4 separate regions of the Homo sapiens genome follow, and all the other regions are linked to region 3. Evidence: fine-mapped expression QTL. A gene starts in region 3. Each other region holds a variant in brackets. All regions are shown on one strand. Distances are from middle to middle. Region 1 overlaps DYRK4 (dual specificity tyrosine phosphorylation regulated kinase 4). Region 2 overlaps AKAP3 (A-kinase anchoring protein 3). Region 3 holds the start of DYRK4 (dual specificity tyrosine phosphorylation regulated kinase 4). Region 4 overlaps DYRK4 (dual specificity tyrosine phosphorylation regulated kinase 4).

What was found. PIP is the estimated chance that this variant, and not a neighbour inherited with it, causes the effect.
Region 1: its variant is the best candidate, but not a certain one, in a credible set for the expression of DYRK4 in cerebellar hemisphere (GTEx, PIP 0.73).
Region 2: its variant is the best candidate, but not a certain one, in a credible set for the expression of DYRK4 in naive CD4 T cells (Schmiedel 2018, PIP 0.71).
Region 4: its variant is the best candidate, but not a certain one, in a credible set for the expression of DYRK4 in T cells (TOPMed, PIP 0.85).

What each region holds. Positions count from the first base shown.
Region 1 is chr12:4,606,274-4,611,869 of GRCh38, reverse strand. It overlaps DYRK4 (dual specificity tyrosine phosphorylation regulated kinase 4), which reads right to left. Exons shown (of 15, transcript NM_001394779.1): 12 at 4,483-4,543; 13 at 1,586-1,715. Among named protein-coding and RNA genes, the nearest start is that of AKAP3, 40 kb to the left of the region's middle. The variant G/A (reference allele first, on the strand shown) is at 2,911.
Region 2 is chr12:4,622,183-4,626,182 of GRCh38, reverse strand. All of the region lies in intron 5 of AKAP3 (A-kinase anchoring protein 3), which reads left to right. Among named protein-coding and RNA genes, the nearest start is that of AKAP3, 25 kb to the left of the region's middle. The variant ACACACACG/G (reference allele first, on the strand shown) is at 1,859.
Region 3 is chr12:4,559,630-4,565,225 of GRCh38, reverse strand. It overlaps DYRK4 (dual specificity tyrosine phosphorylation regulated kinase 4), which reads right to left and starts at 3,018. Exons shown (of 15, transcript NM_001394779.1): 1 at 2,943-3,018. The coding sequence starts at 2,980. It overlaps RAD51AP1 (RAD51 associated protein 1), which reads right to left. Exons shown (of 9, transcript NM_006479.5): 9 at 5,179-5,596. RefSeq lists a silencer at 2,889-3,183.
Region 4 is chr12:4,587,784-4,593,379 of GRCh38, reverse strand. DYRK4 (dual specificity tyrosine phosphorylation regulated kinase 4) reads right to left here. Exons shown (of 15, transcript NM_001394779.1): 3 at 4,363-4,443; 4 at 2,940-3,050; 5 at 2,082-2,220; 6 at 215-378. Among named protein-coding and RNA genes, the nearest start is that of DYRK4, 28 kb to the right of the region's middle. The variant G/A (reference allele first, on the strand shown) is at 2,441.

The DNA of each region.
Region 1 (5,596 bases), 47 kb before region 3:
ACTATCCTAATTTTATGGTTCAGTCCTTCAACCATCTGAAAATATTTACATCGCTACTAACTAATGATCATATGATATGGTTTTCACCATCTGACCACCTTCTGAAATAAGGATATTTTAGCAGTTGTCTAACTGGTGTCCATCATGGTGGGAATAGCTTCTATAACTGCAGGGAGACAGTATTAACATTCTAGACTCATTAAGGTCCTAAAACAGCTCAAACTCTCATTTCTGTGTCAAATGAATTGCTGTTAAACAACATCTCTCCTTTCCTGGACTTCTGGAGTTCGCCTACAAAGTCTAGACACGGGGCTTTACATTTATGCCTATTGAACTTGGCTCAAAACTTTTAGTCTCAAAGATTTTCTAATTAGCAATATATATATATAAGATAACAGTCCCCATCAGCCTGACTGCCTCTTGCAAGTTATGAGTAATCAGTCCTTTGCACTAAAGAAGAAAATAATGCCTTCCTTGGTGCTGAGCTGTGTTCTGGATGGTTGAGGTTTCTGGATAACCCATCTGTCTCAGCAGTTGGTTTCTGTCATTTGTTAAGGTAGGGGTAAAGATGGGGTACAGGATCCTTCCCTACCTTGATTATTCTGATGAGTGAATAGCATGACCCCCTACGATGGGAATACTTTCATCATTACCTCATGGTTCACCCTCTGAGCTAGTACTGAAATTCCAGAGAGCACAGATGCCAGAAGAGTATTTTGATAACATCACTCCATCCAACTGGAAGAATAAGAGACTGTAATGATATGGTCTTCTAAAAATACTAAATTATAGGACTGATAGAACTGGAAGGGAGCTTAGGAATACCGTATTTTATAGGAAAGAACACTGAGGCCCAGAAAAAAGTGATGACTTGCCAAGTATCACATGGATAATCTACTTGCCACTCTGTGGAGATAGATTTACCTCTTTAATAGTCGTAAAATAATAAGAATAGCTAACGTTTTCTAAACACCTTTTAAACTGGGTGCTGTGCTGGGTACTACGACTTAAGTACAGATCTAATTTCTAAGATTCAAAATATGCATATAGATTATAAAAAGTTGTACATAATAAATGGTTTACAGCTCACCTTCCCCCTAATTCCCTAATATAAGACGATTTGGGTACTAAATCCTAGGGGGAGGGGGACAGGCCCTGAAACCAGTTTACACTGGATGTGTATGCAAATCATTACAACAAGCAGTCAGGGGGTTGGCTTCAGCTCACAGAGCAGAAGACATTTAGGACTGGCAAACAATCTCACTGCCAGGCAGTTTGAGGCCAGGAAGATGACAAACTCTACCATACGCTGTGTATTCCAGGGCAGGTCACTTAATCTCTTTGAACCCCAACCTCCATACGTGCAAAACAGAGCAAATCATCTGCCCTGACAACCACACAGTAGGGAGAGATGTCTGATGAAACAACAGATGTGGAAGCAATTTGTAGACTTTAAAGCTCTATTGTTAGCATTTCTTGTTACTTTTATAACTATCTCCCAGCCTTAGTCTTTCACCAGCAAACGTGTGTCAAAGTACAGCATTTAAGAGGAAACCCAGAAGCAGAGATGTCCCAACAAACTCACACCAAACACCTTCTGAGAAAGTCCAGGAAGCTGGTGTCATAGGTTTTCAGCACCATCGTGAGGTCCTTGGAATCTGGGTATCTTTTTTTCCCCCTGTTGTTGGTTATATTTTTAGGAAAACCTTTGGAATCTGTAGAGATAGAACATTCTGTATTTAGTTTCAGGTGTAAATCTTTAGTGGTCACATGATGCTGCTGCTTAGAGTGGCCTCTGTAGCTCTTTTGCTCTCTGTCTTACACACTCGCCTCATGCCACACCCCAATAAACACACACACACACACTCAGTTTGAAATAACCATGTGTAGATTACCCAAGGAATGCAATTTACTTTAAAAATTGATTTTTTCCTACTATTCAGTATGTTCTGAACTTCCTTCCCACTGCCTCCTCTCCAAATCAAAGAAATAATTTAAATGGCTTAACACCAACCAAGATAAAATAATAATGCTAATGATAATAATGACAATGGTAAAGTAAATGTTAAGTGACAAGGTCCTGTGAAATTGTACAAATATCCATTTCCTTTTGGATCATGGCCTTAGCCCTCCCACTTCATCCTACATTGTCCTTTTTACCAATGACCAAAGAAGAATCAAGCTCACAGTCTTATCAATAACAAAGCTCCTAAAGTCATGATCATGTAATTGTTTTTTCTCACTCTGGCCCTCATCAGTCATTCCCTCCATCCCCTTCTTACTACCTGAGCCACCTGGGCCACCTAAGTATAATATCTTACCAGCCTTGAGACAACACCATTTTGCTGCTAATTAGGGGTATTAACTAGGAGTCGCCCGGGGCAGAGGAGCAGTTGGCAGCCCAAACCTGGGAAAGGAACAGTCAAGAACTGAAGTGGACAACCGTGTTTCCCAAACTTATTTTGTCATAAGAATCACAAGGAGCCGTCATTAAAAACGTCGAATCCTGGGTCCTATCGCAATCTTCCCATAGCATAGCTTATAGAAGAGAATCACAGGAATTCGCTTTTTTGCCAAGTCCCCAAATGATTCTTACATTTGGATAGAGTTTGGAAAACACTGACGAAGATGCAGTTCTCAGCAACATTCCTTCTTTCACAGGAAGTGAAGACATGGATATTGCTGCCAAAACCCCATCACCATCCTAAAGCCTAGTGCTGATGGTAGAAATAAGGAACTCTATGAAGTAGACATGCCTATGTCTTTAGTACGTTCCTACGAAGGTGCTCTGTGTTCCCTTCCTGCTAGTCCCCACCTAGATGCTATCTCATGAGTTCAGAGTTACAGGCTCAAGATATGTCTTCCCACAGTGACTCTGCCTAATCCAAAAGGCTGAATTATTAAGTTGTG[G/A]GTAGAAAAAGTATATTTGGGATCCAAAGACCAGTTCGCGTGCTCCATGTGTAAATTATACTGGGGAGCCAGCCAGATCCTTTGCCTACCGCCAGATTGCTCGGTTAATGTGTGGTCACCATTCTATGGCAACCAGGACACTGCCCTGCTCAGAGGCAAGGTCTCCAAAGCTCCAGCCATGATTACCAGATGATGTTTAAAAGAATTAACCATTGGAATGAATGGCATGGAACCAACTAATCAGAATGGAAGACAGCCCTGGCACTGGAGTAGGATCATAGAGAACTTCTGCTTGCTTGGCCTTCAGCTTTTAGGTTTTTGGATCATGGAGAGTTTAAGGAGTCCTGGGAGAGGGCCAGGGAGCCTGCAGTTGTAGCAGGGCTCAGGGCTGTGGCTTTTTACCAAATGGTACAGAAATAGACAAATTATAACCCCCACATGGCTGAATCAGTTCATACTGACCAGCATGACCCAAACCCTTTTATCCTAAAGGATCTCCCCACGAGAGTGTTTTGGACCTTCCTACTGATGGAGCAAGTTGTGAACAGAAATTGTGTGATTTGCATACATATTCAGAAGCTGCTCGCAGTTGAAAATCAGAGGTGGGAGGGCCAGGAATGTCTGGGATTGTGTGGTCAGAGGGAGTCCATGAACCGACCTGACAACAATGGCTGGTCAGAAATGTCACTCCAGGTAGCATGGAGTCCCTGTCTGTGGAGTTCCCTTTTCCTCCTATTTGGCTTTGCTCCACTTTGCTGACCTTCAGCCCACTCTGGCTGTTTCTATCTGGGACTCTTAGCTTCCTGTGGTTCTTTAAAGGGATTTTAGGTATGAGATTTGCTGCATCTTTTTGGTGCGTGTACGTTGAAAGCCCTGCCTCAGTTGATACCTTGTCGACCCATCCTTCCATCTTGTATAGGACCACTTAAATAGAAAGGCGGAGGATCATAAAAATCCAGAATTCTGGGAATTATGAGGAGAGGGGCAGCCTGGACTGTGGACGAAGTTTACTCCCAACAATCAGACAGATGACACGTACATAACTACCAGCCACAACACATCAAAGCAAAACTAAGTCCTTGCTTAACCATTGGCAATGAACCTGGCACAGTAAGGTCTGGAGGATAAGAAGAATTTTAGCAGGGGAAACAATAATGCAGCAATGGAATTTTCCACTATTCTTGAAATGAAGCTTCTGCTCTTTGATTTCCCTGCACAGTGCATAGTGTGAGAGGGCAAGTTGCTTGGGAGAGTGGGGAGAACTTCCGGGAGAGGATGCAGTTACAATATTTTGAGGTTGCAATATTTGCTGATAGCTCTTCTGAGCAGGGACCTGGCTATTCTCCTCCTCCTGAGCATTTTTACTGTCAAGACCCTGTTCCCACTGTGACTCCCCCATCCCATCTCCAACATGCTATCCGATTCCCCTGCTCATTATCTTTTACTTCTCTGAAAGACGCTCTTAATCACAGCCCTTTGGTATGTGGCCAGGGGAAAAGAATGAAATGAGCCTTAAGGTATGGCAGGTGTCTTCAAGGCCTGTGACACCTCATGAGACACACTAGGACTTACCAAAGAATGTCTGTCTCCTGGAGGCTGTCTGAATGAAGCCGGCTGGCGGCAGACCCAGCACCTTAATAAGGATAATTCAATTGGTTCATTCTTTGTGGGAGCACAGATTCAAAGGCTGAGGGGTGGAGCGTACTTTGGCCAAGCTTTGCCTTCTACAGATAAGGATTCAAAGCATTAAGTAATAACATCTGGTCAGTAGCAGAGCAAACCCAGAGCCTGGGCCTTTTAACTCCTAATCCAGGGCTGGTTTCATATCCTAAGAATCAACACTGGCCATGTTATTCTACACAAACATCAGCACCAACTAGGGGTGGGCCACCACCCTTGATAGCAGCCAGATGTCATTGTCAAAGCAAATAAACTAGTACACATGCTGCCATGTCAGAATTAAAGAATGATATATCCCACCATGGAGCACTGGAAAGGGAGAAGAAAAGATGAAAATCACCGGATGAGCATCAGACAATTATAAGACAAAATACCTTCTTGAAAAGAAAAGTGTAGCACCTACTTGTTCATCTTTTCCTACTGCAACTTAGAGGGGCACACAGAGATAAGGAAATTACAGTGTGGGTCACCTGCCCTTGCTGCTCGGTTCCCACCCATAATCCATCCATTATCCTGCTCTTCTGTTCCTCAGACCCTTTGACACTGAGGTCAAGAGGAAGCTGAGTCAGTTCTGGGGCTGTAGGAAATTTGAAACATAGGCCCCGTTCTCTTTGGTATTGGAAGCAGGAGTGGTCTGGGGATGCTTTATAAAATCATTCATTATCAACCTTAGAAGCCATCTTCTCTGCTCCCCTCATTTTATAGTCCAGAGCTGGGAAATGCCTAGTCAAAAAGACAGAGCCAGGACTAAGACCCCAGGTTTAATGACTCGCAGGCCAGTGTTCATTCCACCACAGCTATTTTTACCTAAGTTATTTTAATATTTTATTATTAGTTTCGATCATGAAATGAAATTATCTATGTTTAGTCATTCTCAAGGCTATATGTGTTTCTCTGTAACTTTGAGACAATCTGGAAAATAGAAATTTGGCAAAGATAGATAGATACAGATACATAGATAGATAGATAGATAGATAGATAGATAGCCAGCCAGCCAGCTAGCTTG
Region 2 (4,000 bases), 62 kb before region 3:
GAGTTTTGGATAGGACAGCATTGCTCAAAGGATGAGATGAAGCTGGAAAGTAGCCCTGGGATGTGTTAGGGAAGAGGCAGAGTCTGAATTTATGACCTTTTCAAACATGCCATTACTGTCTTAGCTGGTTGTCTAGGTGGCGTTGGGGATTTGAAAGGATTCAGTGGATAACACCCCTCTTCCCCCTACCCTAAGCTCTGAATCAGTTGACAAGTAAGACTAAAGCATAAGGTAGATGGGAAATCAACTTATCACTGTTATTACTGATAAAGGTAAACGTGCCTGATAAGTTCTTGTCCTCCACCCAAGGTGCCCAGTAAGCATCAGAACTGCGCGCCAAAGGGAGGGTTTGAGTCTGGAGAACACGCACACTTACCCCAGATGCTTCACACTGAAGTGCGGGAATTAAAAAGACCATCCCTACAACCTTCTCTTCTCTCTCCTCTCTGCCTTCTCGCTCGCTTGCTCTCTCTCTCTCTCTCTCTCTCTCATTTTCTCTTCCTCAGTGCTTTTGATTGTCTCCTCTTGATTGAGAAAAGTGGACCAACTGCTGTTAATCATTAAGTAGCAAAGGGTGGCACAAGAGGCTAGAATTATTTAGAAAATTTCATCATCATAGGAATCAGAAGATAAGGAAAAACAGGCTTTCTCTGCTTAATTAAGTGGTATTTACATGGTATTAGCAACGCTTGCAACTGGGTCGCTATATTTATCTGATGACTGGGAAAACACACGATTACAGAGCATCCAGATTAGGCTATATCAAGCCTAAACAAGAAACTGTATGGTCTTTGACTTTGGTCTTAAAAAGACTACACGTGCTACTTAAAGTGTAGTCTGTGGACCTACAACATTGGCATCACCTGGGAGCTTTTTAGAAGTGCAGAATCTCACACTTCCCTCCAGACCTACTGAATCAGAATCTTCATCTTAGCAAAATACCCAGGTGAGTTGTGTGCACATTCAAGTTAGGCTAGAAGACAGTGTGAACTTCCAATATTAGATCTATTCCTAAGGGTCGTTGGCAAGCTCTGTCTCCACGCAGGGTTTCCAATCCGTGAAACAGACAACTATTTTACAGTATATAGCAATTAGTAGAGGTGGGGAGTGGGAGGCTATATGCTGAAGAAAATTTAAACTGATGAAAAAAATCTAAAAGTAAGCATAGCTTTCAGGTGTGTAATGTGTGAGAAAGCCTTTTGTAGCCATCTTTGAAATCAAACCCCTCATATATAACATACATAATACATTCTGGCTTTAGACTTTTTTTGTATTGGAATGTGTTGTTTTAGATTATTTTAAATTGAAACATGTATCTAAAATAGGACAATAGACTTGCAGTCCCCCACTTTTATATACACACACACACACACCTTTGTCTACTCTAAAGATAAAGCCAGTCATCTATTTTATTGACTCCCTCTAAGAGTAGAAGGAATGAGAAGCAGCATGTTCAAACTTCAACTAATAAATAGACGCACTGAATATTAGTATATTTTTAAGAACAGGGATGACATAGACACCAAAGAAACTACCTAAAAATGACTTTTTGAAAAGAGATTAATGTATGCAAATATTCTCATACTGATTCAGGTGATTGAACCTGCTGTCACTGGGATGTCTGTGAGCCCGATGTCTTTAAATACATTTGTATTTATTTTTGAATAAATAATATGTGTGCATAGTTCAAAATTCAAAAGTACAAAAGGATGCATGGTGAAAATTAAGGGTTGTTTTCTCATTTGTGTGCTCCATCCCATTGCCTTCCCTGGAGAAAAAAATTGTTTGGATCAATTTCTTATTTATCCTTCCAGCAATACACACACACACACACACACACACACACACACACACACAC[ACACACACG/G]TAAAGTCACAAATTATTATTTTTTATATATATATCCTCTTCTGCAACATATAGAGTTGCCACATTCTTTTTAATGGCTTTATATATTTTATAATATATGAAGCCATTTCATATATCATATATGTTTTATATATGTTTTATATATTTAACCCCTCCCTTATGTATGGATATTTCAGTTGCCACTATTCTGCACTGTAAGCAATGCTACACTGAATATCCTTGAATATACATAATTTTGCACAGATTCAAATGTATTCACATGTGCTATACACCTAGGAAAGGAACTTCAAGGTCACTGAGAATATTATTTGTGTAATTTGATACATGTTTCCAAATTGCCTTCCATAGAGCTTGTACCAATTAACACACCTATTAAAACAGTGTAAGAGGACTATTTCCTCACACTTTAACCAACAGTGCATGCTAAAATTTTTAATTTGCTAAGTTGCTTTACTTTTTGTCTTATTAGGAATAAGGGTGAGTATCTTTGCATATAAGACCATTTGAATTTCCTCTTCTGTGGATTAATTTGTCATAACTTCTGCCCATTTTTCTTTTTTTAACTTATTTTAGGTTCAGGGGTATATGTGCTTGTTTGTTATATAGGTAAACTCATGTCACACGGGTTTGTTGTACAGCTTATTTTGTCACCCAGGTACTAAGCCTAGTACTGACCCAATAGTTATTTTTTTCTGAGTGTCTTCTTCCTCCCACCCTTCACCCTCAAGTGTCTGTTGTTCCCTCTTTGTGTCCATGTGTTCTCATCATTTAACTCCCACTTCTGATAACACGCTGCATTTCATTTTCTGTTCCTGAGTTAATTTGCCAATGGCAATGGCCTCCAACTGCATCCATGTTCCTGCAAAGGAAATGGCTGTGTTCTTTTTTATGACTGCATAATATTCCATGGTGTATATGTACCACATTTTCTTTATCCCATCTGCCATTGATGGGCACTTAGGTTATCTCCATGTCTTTGTTATTGTGAATAGTGTTGCAGTGAACATCCACGTGCATGTGTCTTTATGGTAAAACAATTTATATTCCTTTGGATATACACCCAGTAATGGGATTGCTGGGTTGAACAGTAGTTCTGTTTTTAGCTCTTTGAGGAATTGCCACACTGCTTTTGACAATGGTTGAGCTAATTTACACTCCCACCAACAGTGTATAAGTGTTGCCTTTTCTCCACATCCTTGCCATTACTTTTAATAATAGCCATTCTAACTGGTGTGAGATGGTATCTCATTATGGTTTGGATTTGCGTTTATCTAGTGACCAGTGATATTAAGCTTGTTTTTATATGCTTGTTGGCCACACGTATGTCTTCTTTTGCAAAGAGTCTGTTTGTGTCCTTTGCCCACTTTTTAATGGGGTTGTTTTTTTCTTGCAAATTTGTTTCAGTTCCTTATAGCTGAACATTAGACCTTTGTCAGATGCATAGTTTGCAAATATTTCCTTCCATTATGTAGGTTGTCTGTTTACTCTATTAATAGTTTCTATTGATGTGCAGAAGCTCTTAAATTTAATTAGATCCCATTTGTCAAGCTTTGCTCTTGTTGCAGTTGCTTTTGGTGTATTCATCATGAAATCTTTGCCGGTTCCTATGTCCAGAATGGTATTGTCTAGGTGTTCTTCTAGGGTTTTTACAGTTTTTAATCTTACATTTAACTCTTTAATCCATGTTGAGTTGATTTTTGTATATGGTGTAAGGAAGGGGTCCAGTTTCAATCTTCTGTATATGGCTAGCCAGTTATCCCAGCACCTATTGAATTAGGGAATCCTTCCCCATTGCTTGTTTTTGTCAGCTTTGTCAAAGATCAGATGGTTGTAGCTGTGTGGCCTTATTTTTGGGCTCTCTATTCTGTTCCATTGGTCTGTATGTCTGTTTTTGTACCAGTACCATGCTGTTTTGGTTACTGTGGTCCTGGAGTATAGTTTGAAGTTGAGTAATGTGATGCCTCTAGCTTTGTTCTTTTCACCTAGGAGTGCCTTGGCTGTTGGCAGGCTCTTTTTTGGTTCCATATGAATTTTAAAATAGTTTTTTCTAGTTCTATGAAGAATTTCATTGGTAGTTTAATAGGAATAGCATTGAACATTTAAGTTGCTTTGGGCAATATGACCATTTTAACAA
Region 3 (5,596 bases):
CTTAACCCTTGCTCAAAGCTTTGCAAATGCTACCTTTTTATCCTCAAAATATGTGGTGAGCTATGTGGAAAAGAATTAAACTGCTTTTTATATTTCGTTTGTATCTTGTTACATGAAGGATTGAAGATAACTAATAAACTCAGCTCAGAGCTAGAGTGAATGTTCCTTTGAGAACTGAAACCAAAAGTTTGGCCATTCTCATTTCATCTTACATGCAGATCGGAGTTCTCCTTCCCCTTCCTCTCTTTCCTCGAGCGTTCAATCGTGTGTTTGCCTAAGAAACCATTTTTTCACTTGGTCAAGAGCTTTAGTGTCATTTAATTATCTTAGGTGCATATATTTTTTGTCTCATATTGATTGTTAGTCTTTTGGAGACATAGATGGTGATCCTGCATTTTTAAAAAATTCCTTTTGGGGTAAGGACAGTGACTTGTCTGTTGAAAACTTGGTACAAATTTGCTGAGGGAAGAGAAATCTAAAATAGATTAATTCATCAAAAAATTCCAGAGCATCAACTGTGTGCCAGCTACTGGGCTAAGCATGGAGGATTCAAAGATAAATAAAACAGAAGCCTTGTTTTCAAGGAGTTCGAAGACTCAAGGTTAAGGCAGATCCACAGAGGTGCCAGCCTTACTGCACTGCATAGTATTTTATATTAATATATACACATCATCTGTGTATAGAGTACTTCAATATCCAGAAAGGAAACAAGTCTTTTGAGATTTACCTGTTATGATTTTAGGATTTCTACTGCAATTGCCAGTAGCTTGATCTTTATGCCCTGGGGGCTGTCTTTGGGGCAGAAAGTATGGCAGTGCAGGGTTTGCAGGGATTCCGTTTGCATTCTGTGAACAGGTGATAATGTTTTTAATGAACTTAAGTTACATTCATTTTTTAATTGATATATAATAGATGTATATTTATATTTATATAATATATAATCAAGTCAGGGCTTCAAATTATTCTCTACTAGCTATTTTGAAATATACAATAGATTATTGTTTACTATTGTCATTCTACTGATTTATTAAACACTAGGTCTTATTTCTTCTATCTAAATGTATTTTAAGTCACACTCATTTCTGCCAGAGAATTCCTTGGACCCTCTGCATATATCCCTGAGACTCTTGAGGGTTCACTGACTCCCAGACTCTAAAGAGCTAGAAGAGGTTTTGGAGACCATGTCATCCATTTTCCCACCCTGGGGAAGAATCCTCTTTCTATGGTATTCCTGGCAATCACTCTGTCTATGCTGGAATATTTCTATGACAGAGTGCACTGTTTTTCTAGGCAACCCATTTCACACTCAACTGTTAATTTACATAGGGTTGGTACTTGATATTTCTTGGAAGAATAAACTATATTGAGCAAAATTTCCTCCACTGATCCTTGCTATCCTCTGCAGAGTACCAAGGAACAAATCTATCTCTTTTCTACTCAAGAGTTCTTGAATGTTCAAAAGTTGAGTAGAAAAAAGCTTTCTCTCCCTTGCATCTCCTCATCTCCAGGCATTCTGTGAAGTTTTTTCAAACCTCTCTTCATGTGATGGCACACCCAGGCCTGACAGAGAGAGCCTGCCTTGTGGTTGTTCCTATTTTCCAGTTCTTTGTGATCTCAAAGTAGCTACAGTTTCTAGAGTCTGGATTATGTTCTACTCATTGCTAAGTCAGGCAGCACGACCATATTCTTTGATGTGGTCATTGCATTTCTATGAATGCAGCCTCCACCAGCATTTGCTCTTTGGGGAGCCATCACAACACACTCACGATGGGCTTAGAGTCAGCTAAAACCACTAAATCCCAGCACTGGGTCCTCCACACGCTTGAGGACTATGCATTCTAGCCAAGTTGCAGGCAACAATATGTGGAGTTGGAGAGGGCAAAGTCAGGGAAGAGTGGCTGGCATATTGCTAGAGAGTCCCTTCCGATTTACCTCTGCTTTCTCCATAAGGACCAAAACAAACAAGAGAAACAACAGATTTAAGTAACAGAAACAATAAGGTAGAGTGCATGTTTGAAGAATTTCTTCGAACTCCTAGGTTTTACATACCGACCACATGTAGGTGATCAAATCGCTCAAGCAAGACAAAGGACATTTTCATTTGTTGTTTCCACGGTTTGAACTTTTCCACTAAATGGCCTCCTGCTTTTGCCGAGTCTCCACTTAAGCCTGGACAGTGAAGCTTGAATTAATATTGGTGATGCTGTCCGTTGCTTAAGACATGTCAGAGGGGTCACGGTTTTCCTAAGCTTTGAGGGGCTGCTGGACATTTCAAATGCAGCAAATGTCACAGAATAGCCTTTAAAAACCCTCAAATTGTGCATTGTTCATCTCTTTTTTAAGGAAAGATTTGCTAATATTGGGAATTTCCTGAGTGGCAGCTCTGGGTGTGTGATCTACACACACCTTCGCGCGCTTTTGTGTCAGGGGCTGGGCCCTGGTTGAGCACAGAGGTGCCCGGGCATATGGGCTGGGTGGGAACATGAGTAATGCCTGCCAGAGCCTCATCCACGCGAGGCGTGTGGTCGTGGACCCACTTACGACTACCAAGAGGACATGCAGTAAAGAAGAGAAAGAAAGGGAGGAAGAAAGTCTGGCGTCCCAGTGAGGGCTGGAAGCACAGTTCCAGGATAGGTCTGCTGAGTTCCTCAGAACCCCTCGCTCCCTGTCCTGCACTCAGCTGGAGTCGCCGATGCGACAGCATCTTAACATGGAAGTATACTGACGTCGGATTCCGGGGATGCAGCTGCTGCAAAAACTACAACTGTATTTTCTTGTCCGCGCACCACAGCCCGCCTCTCTCTGACCCACATTCCCCGGTCAGCTCTTGCATTCTGCACGCTTTTCATTCTCCCCCCACGACCCCGTCGACCAGAAGCTTCGTCGCCTGCCTCGTACTCGCGCCTGACTGCTCGTGAAGTACGAGCCTCCGCGGCCCTTACTTTGTTCCGGTGCGGATAGGCGGCGGGAGGAGCTGCATGAGGCCGGCGCTGACCGCCCGCCGCTGCGGGAGGCTGTGAGAGCCCGGCAGAGGGCAAGGGACGGCCACGCCCTCCTCCCGTCGCTATAGAAACGGCTCCCGCCCTTTTTATGACTCCAGAGCTGGAAGGGCTTTCTCAGGCTGTGGTCCCAAACCACCTTGCAGAGTAGCAGCCTGAAGAACATACTCCTCGTCCTCCTACTCGCATTCTCTTGCCCCAGTTCTTTAAAGTATAGGGCAAGAATTGAACAAAATCCCAGCATAAAGAACTTAAAGTTGGTTGCCCAGACCGGACACATGAAATTATCCCTACTCTCTCCCCTTCTTCAAGCGAAGCATGTGGTTATCAGAATTACATCACAGAAGTTCTGGCCGGGCGCGGTGGTTTTACACCTGCAATCCCAGCACTTTGGGAGGCCTAGGCAGACCACTTGAGGTCTGGAGTTCGAGACCAAACTGCTCAAAGTAGTGAGACCCCCCCGCCCCTGTCTCTATTTAGACATTTTTTTCTGTAATCCCAGCACTTTGAGAGGCCAAGGCGGGTGGATCACGAGGCCAAGAGATCAAGACCATCCTGGCCAACATGGTGAAACCCCGTCTCTACTAAAAATACAAAAATAAGCGGGGCGTGGTGGTGCGTGCCTGTAGTCCCAGCTACTTGGGAGGCTGAGGCAGGAGAATCGCTGGAACCCGGGAGGCGGAGGTTGCAGTGAGCCGAGATCGCGCCACTGCACTCCAGCCTGGCGACAGAACGAGACTGCATCTCAAAAAAAAAAAAAAAAAAGAAAAAAAGAAAAAGAAAAAGAAAAAAAGTAAGTACATAGCAAAAGTTCTGGGTAAAATCCATATATCAGCTGAACACTTTTTGAGTGCTTACTCTGCACCAGATTGTAGAAAGCATGAAAAGGGAAATTTGTAATTGAGTGGCAGTAGGTTGACCTGGAGGTGCACAGTCTGGTCCAGGCAGAAAAGACATTCAAATGAAGCTTTCTGAAAGAGCTGAGTTGAATCTGAGTCTTCAAGGACAGGCAGTAGTTGTCTACGTAAAGGAGGCAAGTCCTATTCTGAAGGCCAGAGCCATAGAAAAGCTTGGTACCATTGTGCCAGCACCCAGTTTAGTGGGGCAGGGATCAAAGTTGCACGTGGGCAGAGACAAGGTTGAAGCAGCAGGAAAGGGGGAGTCAGACACCAAGTAGGCTATGAACTCGACCAGGGTAAGGTGTGTATGTGCAGACTGCAGAGGGGTGTTCATGCTGACTTTATTTTATAAAACCCTCTGTGGCAATAACAATGGAAGTAGGCCCGAGTAGGTTAAGAATCAAGGCAAGGATGCCTGTTAGAAATAGTGAGTGATGATGTTTCAGAGTAAGGGAGAGCACATGGAAGAGTAGTTTTGAGAAATTTAGGAAATGGAGTAAGACTTGGTGACTGGATGTGAAAGTCGAGAGAAGACTCAATCCCAGGATGACACCTTTGGCACCTGCAGTGATGGTGGTGCCATTCATTTACCAACAGAAAACACAGGAGAGATGTCAGGGGTAGGAGGAGACGTTGAATTTAACAACTGATCTGCTACATCAAATTGTCAGTGGACCATCCACAGGTTCTGTTGTCAAGAGCATGGTATAGGGTACAGACCCTGACTTGGCAGTCACTGTCACATAAGTGACCCCTGGAGTTTGCATAGAACATGAAACTGGTAAGACAAGTAGGTAAAGGTGACACAACAGATTAGAAAGCTGCAAAATAATGAAGAGTAGGCATGGAGATGGGAAGAAATGACAAAGAAATGTGTCACATGAGCCAAGGAAATCAAATGTTTTCATCAGAGTATAATGAATAGGGTGTATAAGATTAGGTGAGAAAATTGTACACTGGGTTTGGCAACATAAAGGTATCAGTGCTTTCAGCCAGGCTGGTTTTAACATACTTTGAGGTAATTTTCAAATCCCCTGATAAACTATAAAGAACACGGCAAAAACAGGTTATTGAGCTGGTGCCAGATGATTAATCAATTATATCAGTACCTAATATACAGTAGGCTCTTATGTTTATTGTTGATCTACACCAAATAGAGTACCTCAGTGCTATGTAACTGGAAAATATGTTTTTAAAAAGGGGACAGGTGGGGCAGGTTAGGGGGCTGGTATATGACACTATAAAAATATACGTTAGATAAAAGAAGTGTACAACAGCAATAGACAAATGCTCACTTTAATCACAATTCTAAATTAATTATTTTCACATTAATATAGATATTTCCATAAACCAAGAAAAACTGAGTTATTATACATTTTTTAACAGCTAACATGATTTGAAAATTTTTTATTAAAAATTGATCAGAAGCTAGTTGAAATTCTCAATGTAAATATAAAATATTCATTACAATTGTTTTTCAAAGTAAATTCAGATCTAAGCTTCCTGAAAAGCTGTACTATCTCATATCATAATAGGGATGACTAAGTACTTGACAACTACTTTCTAAAGAACTTAACAAAAAGTGACTACTTGAAGATTACATTTACAACAGAAAGGCTAACATTCTCTGCGGAGCTCTCATTTTATCATGAAATGTGGACAATCAGGAACACGTGGATGAGTGGTATCAAGAAAAAG
Region 4 (5,596 bases), 28 kb before region 3:
TCTTCCATTAGTAGAGTATTTTGCATACTAAATTGCATGCTTCCCCATTTTCAAACATGGTATTTCCTTGGTTTGGCACTACCAGAATACTTCAGGATATCTAGTCTCCAACGTATCAGCCCCAAATACTACAAAATACCGTTGCTTTTTTCCTTTCTAGACTACCTCTTGTCCCTGGGCCCCTGCAGGTTCCCATGGCCCCCACCCCCATCACCTTCAGATAGAAGCCATGCTCATCATCAAAACTCGTCTTGCTAAATTTCTCAGGAGCCGTGTCGAGCTTCTTGGCTTCAAGACCCAGGAACCACAGCTCCGCGTAGCCCAGGATTTCACTTTGTTCATATGGAGACAGCTGGTTCTTAAAAAGCTTTAGGGCCTCTGTGTGAAAAACACTACAATTGTGAGTTCAGTTGAGGCAGCATGGGATTTGCCCCGGATGCAGACGATGGCATCCCTTCCAGGTCACGAGCCATCAGCCTGTTCCCCAGCTGGGTGGCTCACTGAGGACCCTGCATCTGGCATCTCACAAGATGGAAGTATGACAAGAATAAATGTCAAGGTCTTGTATTTATTTCAACAAATCGAGAAAGGAACACAAGGACAGGGGAACAGAGAGCTCAGTTCCCAAACACCTGGGGGTTAGAGCAGCGCAGGTAAAAATTCCAGGAGTCAAATTAGTGTCGACAATAGTATATAGTTTAGGTGGCAAGTTGCCCAAGTTAACGTGGAATTAAGCTATAATTAGTCCGTCTTGAGAGGCTTTGAGAACTGTAATGTCTGCAGGGCCAGACAGGTAACATAAAGGCAACATTAAAGGCCCAGGAGGCTTCACGCTCAAATCTGCAGCTGGATCAGGAAGGACCTCAGATTGCAAGAAGAGATTATGAGTTAGGACTTCCCTACACCAGCCAGATCACATTGGCGCTCTCGTGCGTGGTCAGGGGTAAAATTCACAGTAACTGATGAACTAGAGCATTCTCAGAGAAAAGAAACTAGGATTAGGATAGGGGGCACCATATTATTTGACAAACTGCTGAAGCACTAGAGAGGGAACTGCAAGGAAAAAGAAAAAGACTTATAGGGAACAAGACTTCTGTTTTCATATATGTGAAGGGCAGTCAAGTATAAGCTGAATAAGGCATGTTCTTTGCCCAGAGGACAGAGCCAAGGCATAAGATAGCAGGGGGGCAGATGGCAGCTCTGTGAAGGCAGAACTAGCTCAGGACTGAAATGACCTCTTCATGCATAGTTCCCGGAGTTGTTTAAGAACAACAAGCACCAATTTCAGTTTCTAAGCTGTGGTAGAAGAGCTGTAAAGTGTCTGATGATGGCACACATAGTGGATGCTCGGTGGATTTGGGCTCTCTTCCTTTGCATCCTAATAGGTTATGAGTCTCTGAATCCCATTAAAAGTCTAGCTACTGGCCAAAAACCCATGTGTAATCTTTCAGGCCTGACCACAAGGCAATCCACAAAGGCTTCACCTGGCAAGCCTCACGGGCAAAGCTGCCCTCCCTGCACCAGAGCTGGTGCACAGCCAATGCATTGCAATCTCTGGAGGAAGCTACAGCCAAGGACTGAGACCCCTGGCTGGCCATGCTCTTCTACATGTCTGCATTTCTAATCAAGATCCCCCTACAGAGGCTCCTCTCCAACACCTCCTTATCAAGAGGAAGGAGCAAGCTTCAGCACCCTTTGCTCTGCTCTCAGTATTCAGTACCTTTCCACTCCTGGCTCTTCCACTCTCTCAGTGCCTTCCCGCTGGCCCCTGGGTCCATAAAATGACAGGAGCCTTGTGTCTGGGCTCCTTAGGCAAATGAGACACTTCCTTCTGTCTGCATTGGTACATCCCGCCCTTGCCCAGAGCCACTCCTTGGGGGAAATTCAGCCTCCTATTCAGCCTCTTGCTTATACTACCACAGTCAGAGGTTCAACGCTTAACTTCTACTTTCCTCTTGGCTGGCTGCCTTCTTTGACTACTCTGACACCTGGCAGCTTAGCTCACTCCAGCGCAGCTTAGCTCTTAACACCCCGACCTTCCATAAGCACCTCCCCACCCTGCTACTGCCCCAAAGGCATACCTGCCGCTGTCAGAGTCACCTTTTGCTTCTTTGGTGACTTCTCCTCTGCCTTGGGATCCTGGGTTTTAATGCTAGGGTGGAAAGGTATTTCTGAAGCCTTGAGCTCTGAGGCCGGCATCTGATTGTGAGCTTGATTCTCCTGTCCAGGAAAAGAGGTTTGCAATAAATAACTACTTAGGACTCTCCTGGGGGCCATAAACCATTTATTTAACCAAAGACACCCACCTTCAGCCAGGCTCTTTACCTACCTCTCCAGGGAGAAAACAGCGATTAAGAGACAGAAGGTTCTCCCTACCTCTCTCCCAAAGGAAGCATCTGTCTGACTGACACTATTCCTGGGGAGACCCCTGTACCTTACC[G/A]TATGCTGCTGACAACCCCAGCAACATCTCACTATGGGAAGAGATGGGAACAGTTTTTCACTGCTGCTCTTAAGAAGGTGAGCTCCCAACAAGACAAAGTGACTTGCCCAGGAGCACATGGACTTATGTGTGTGTGACGCCTCTTTCAGTTGGCACCTTCGCACCTATTATCTTATTTGGTCCCTACACAAAAGAAGTAGGAGGACATGGGAGGAAACTAATATTTTGTATGGTTCCACCTTTTATGTACCAGCACTTCATTTTTCCTCAATGAATCCTCCTGACAGCTCTAGAGAGGGCCCATTTTGTAGCTAAGAAAAGGTCAAGGACTTATTTGCTCAAGCTTATAGTCATTGTAAAGAATGAGAACAGGACTAGAACCCACCTCTTCAGCAGCTACTGTGCTTTTCCCCACTATCCTGGGCCTTTCTAAAACTGGCTTTGGACTAAAACCAGGTCTTTCACCTGCCTTCTCAGGGTCCAGTCCGTCTGCACTCACCTGATACAGCAGGGATGACTTCAGCAGGACTTTCTTGCTAATGTGTGGGAAGCTTACCGTATTCTTCTTCCCCTTGGTGTCCACAAAGGGGAGTGAAGTAACACTGGTGTTCTGTAGAAGGAGAAATTGCATGTGTTACAAAAGCCTTAGGCAAGAAAACGTCTCCAGGGGTCATTTCTTCCAGCCTCCCTTCCCAATTCCCCAACAAGAATGAGCCTAACCCCAATCTGGACCTAAACCTATTCTTAAAGTTCTTGGCAAGAAATGCAGATTCCAGAGCAGCAGAGTCAACAAACACATGGGCTCTGGGTTTGAGTCCCTGCTCTACTACTTACTAGCTGCAGGCTTTCAACAGCTCACACTGACTCTTTCTCGAAACCTCAATTATTTCATCACTACCATGGGAACAAAAATGGGGCCTACCTCATAAGGCTTTTGTGAGGTAAATGAGTCAATATATAGAGAGTATTCTGTAAGTGCTGGCCATTATTATTATTACTCCAATATCTTACCACCCTAACGCAGGGAAGTTCTTCCTGTTATATCACACAAATCTTCCTCAGTGCAACATAAGCTTCAATTTCCTCTATGACTACATTATTGACTTGACCTACTCACTTGGATCCCTGCCTCCTGCACTGACTGATTGACTGATTAATCAGGAGAGAGGTCAGAAGAGCTAAAATTTGGAAACAACCTAAGTGTCCATCAACAGATGAATGAATAAAGAAAATGTGATACTTAAACACAATGGAATACTATTCAGTCATAAAAAAGGATGAGAACCTGTCATTTGCAAGAATATGGATAGAACTAGAGATCATTATGCTAAGTGAAATAAGCCAGGCACAGAAAGAGAAATATCACATGTTCTCACTTATTTATGGGATCTAAAAATCCAAACAATTTAATTAAGGGAGACAGAGATTAAAAGGATGGTTATCAGAGGCTGGGAAGGGTAGTGGTCAGGGGAGAGGTGGGGATGGTTAATGGGTACAAAAACGTACACTGAATAAGACCTCATGTTTGATAGCACAACAGGGTGACTATAATCAATAGTAATTTAATTGTATTTTATTGTATGTAACACAAAGGATAAATGCCTGAGGGGACAAATACCCCATTTTCCATGATGTGATTATTACACATTGCATATCTACATCAAAACATCTCATGTATCCCATAAATATATGTACCTACTATATACCCACAAAAATTAAAATAAAAACATTTTTAAAAATCATGTGGAGGAGATGGGGCGTGGTGATGTGGAGATGGGGTGTGGTGACGTGGATAGAGTGCTGTCATCATGTTATGATACATTTTATGATAAATTGGCCAAAACTGTCTGTTCAAAGCTACCCTGGCCACCCACCTCTCCTCATTCTCTCCTAGAGAAAAGGAGCTGACCATCACTCCCTACCTTATGAAAGACTTGGGTCATTCTGGAGTTCTTGATATTGGAAGGTGGCTTCTGGATCTGAACCGAAAGTTTACTTCCAACCTGGATCAAGTGGAAGAAAATAGGAACAATGCTTGGCATGGCTTTATCCCACACTGTATATTTTTGTTACATTACAATAAACAAACTATGCTTGAGGCCAGCTCTCCTGAATCCTTAGCTGGGAAGAGCCAAGAGAGGCTCCAATAAGTACTCAATGAATGTATGAATGGATGATTATCCAAACAAATGATCTTTCCCAAAGTGTTCATCCTGGATGGGCTTGGCCTATGGTTTTCATGCTTTAAAAAAAATCAATATGGCCTTTTCTTCCAACAAAATCTTAACTAGAGACCCTGCTTACGGTAAGGAGTAACAGCTGAGCTGCTCTTGCTCTTTAGAAAAGAAAATGGCCATTGCCTTGCCTGGAAGTCTTTTCGCCCTGAGTGTGGCTCTGAAGGTGGCATAGTGGAACCCACCCAGTGGAACACAGGCACCCAGCCTGGACACCAGTGCCCTGATCAGAAGAGACTTCACGCCTAGAAGGGTGAGGAGAAGAAGACCAAAATACTAGAGCAGTGTGTCCCAGAGGGCGGCAAGCACCCCGCAGAGGAAGAGGACGTAATGTGTACAGTACGCAGATAAAGAGCTATCTAATGGGTATGGATTTACTGTAATATCCATTTGAAAAACTGTAACAAGCACATTGAACTTGTAACGTTGTGGTTGTTATTATGTAGGATGAGATTAAAATTTAAGTTAAAAAAAAAAGTAAGGCCAGGCATGGTGTCTCACACCTGTAATCCCAGTGCTTTGAGAGGCTGAGGTGGGACGATCACTTGAGGCCAAGATTTCCAGGTTACAGTGAGCTATGATCGTGCCACTGCACTCCAGCCTGAGCAACAGATAGAGACCTTGTCTCTACAAAAAACAATAATAAAACAAAACAGAGTGTGAGGACTATGTAGGCGTAGGCATGGCAAAAACTGTAAAGCTGGCCCTCAAATGACTGAAGTTTAGCAAACAACAGGCTAGAGCTTGAATCGAAGTTCTGGTCTTTGAAGCCAAACCAGGGTTCCTCCTTCTTCCAGACCTCCCCTATGGAGTTGAAGGATGTTTATCCAAAGCTGACACACAGCTGGTATCAGACCCACTTCTGTAAACATTTGGCCACACTGAAATAACAACTGGGTACAACACTTAATATCATCCAGCA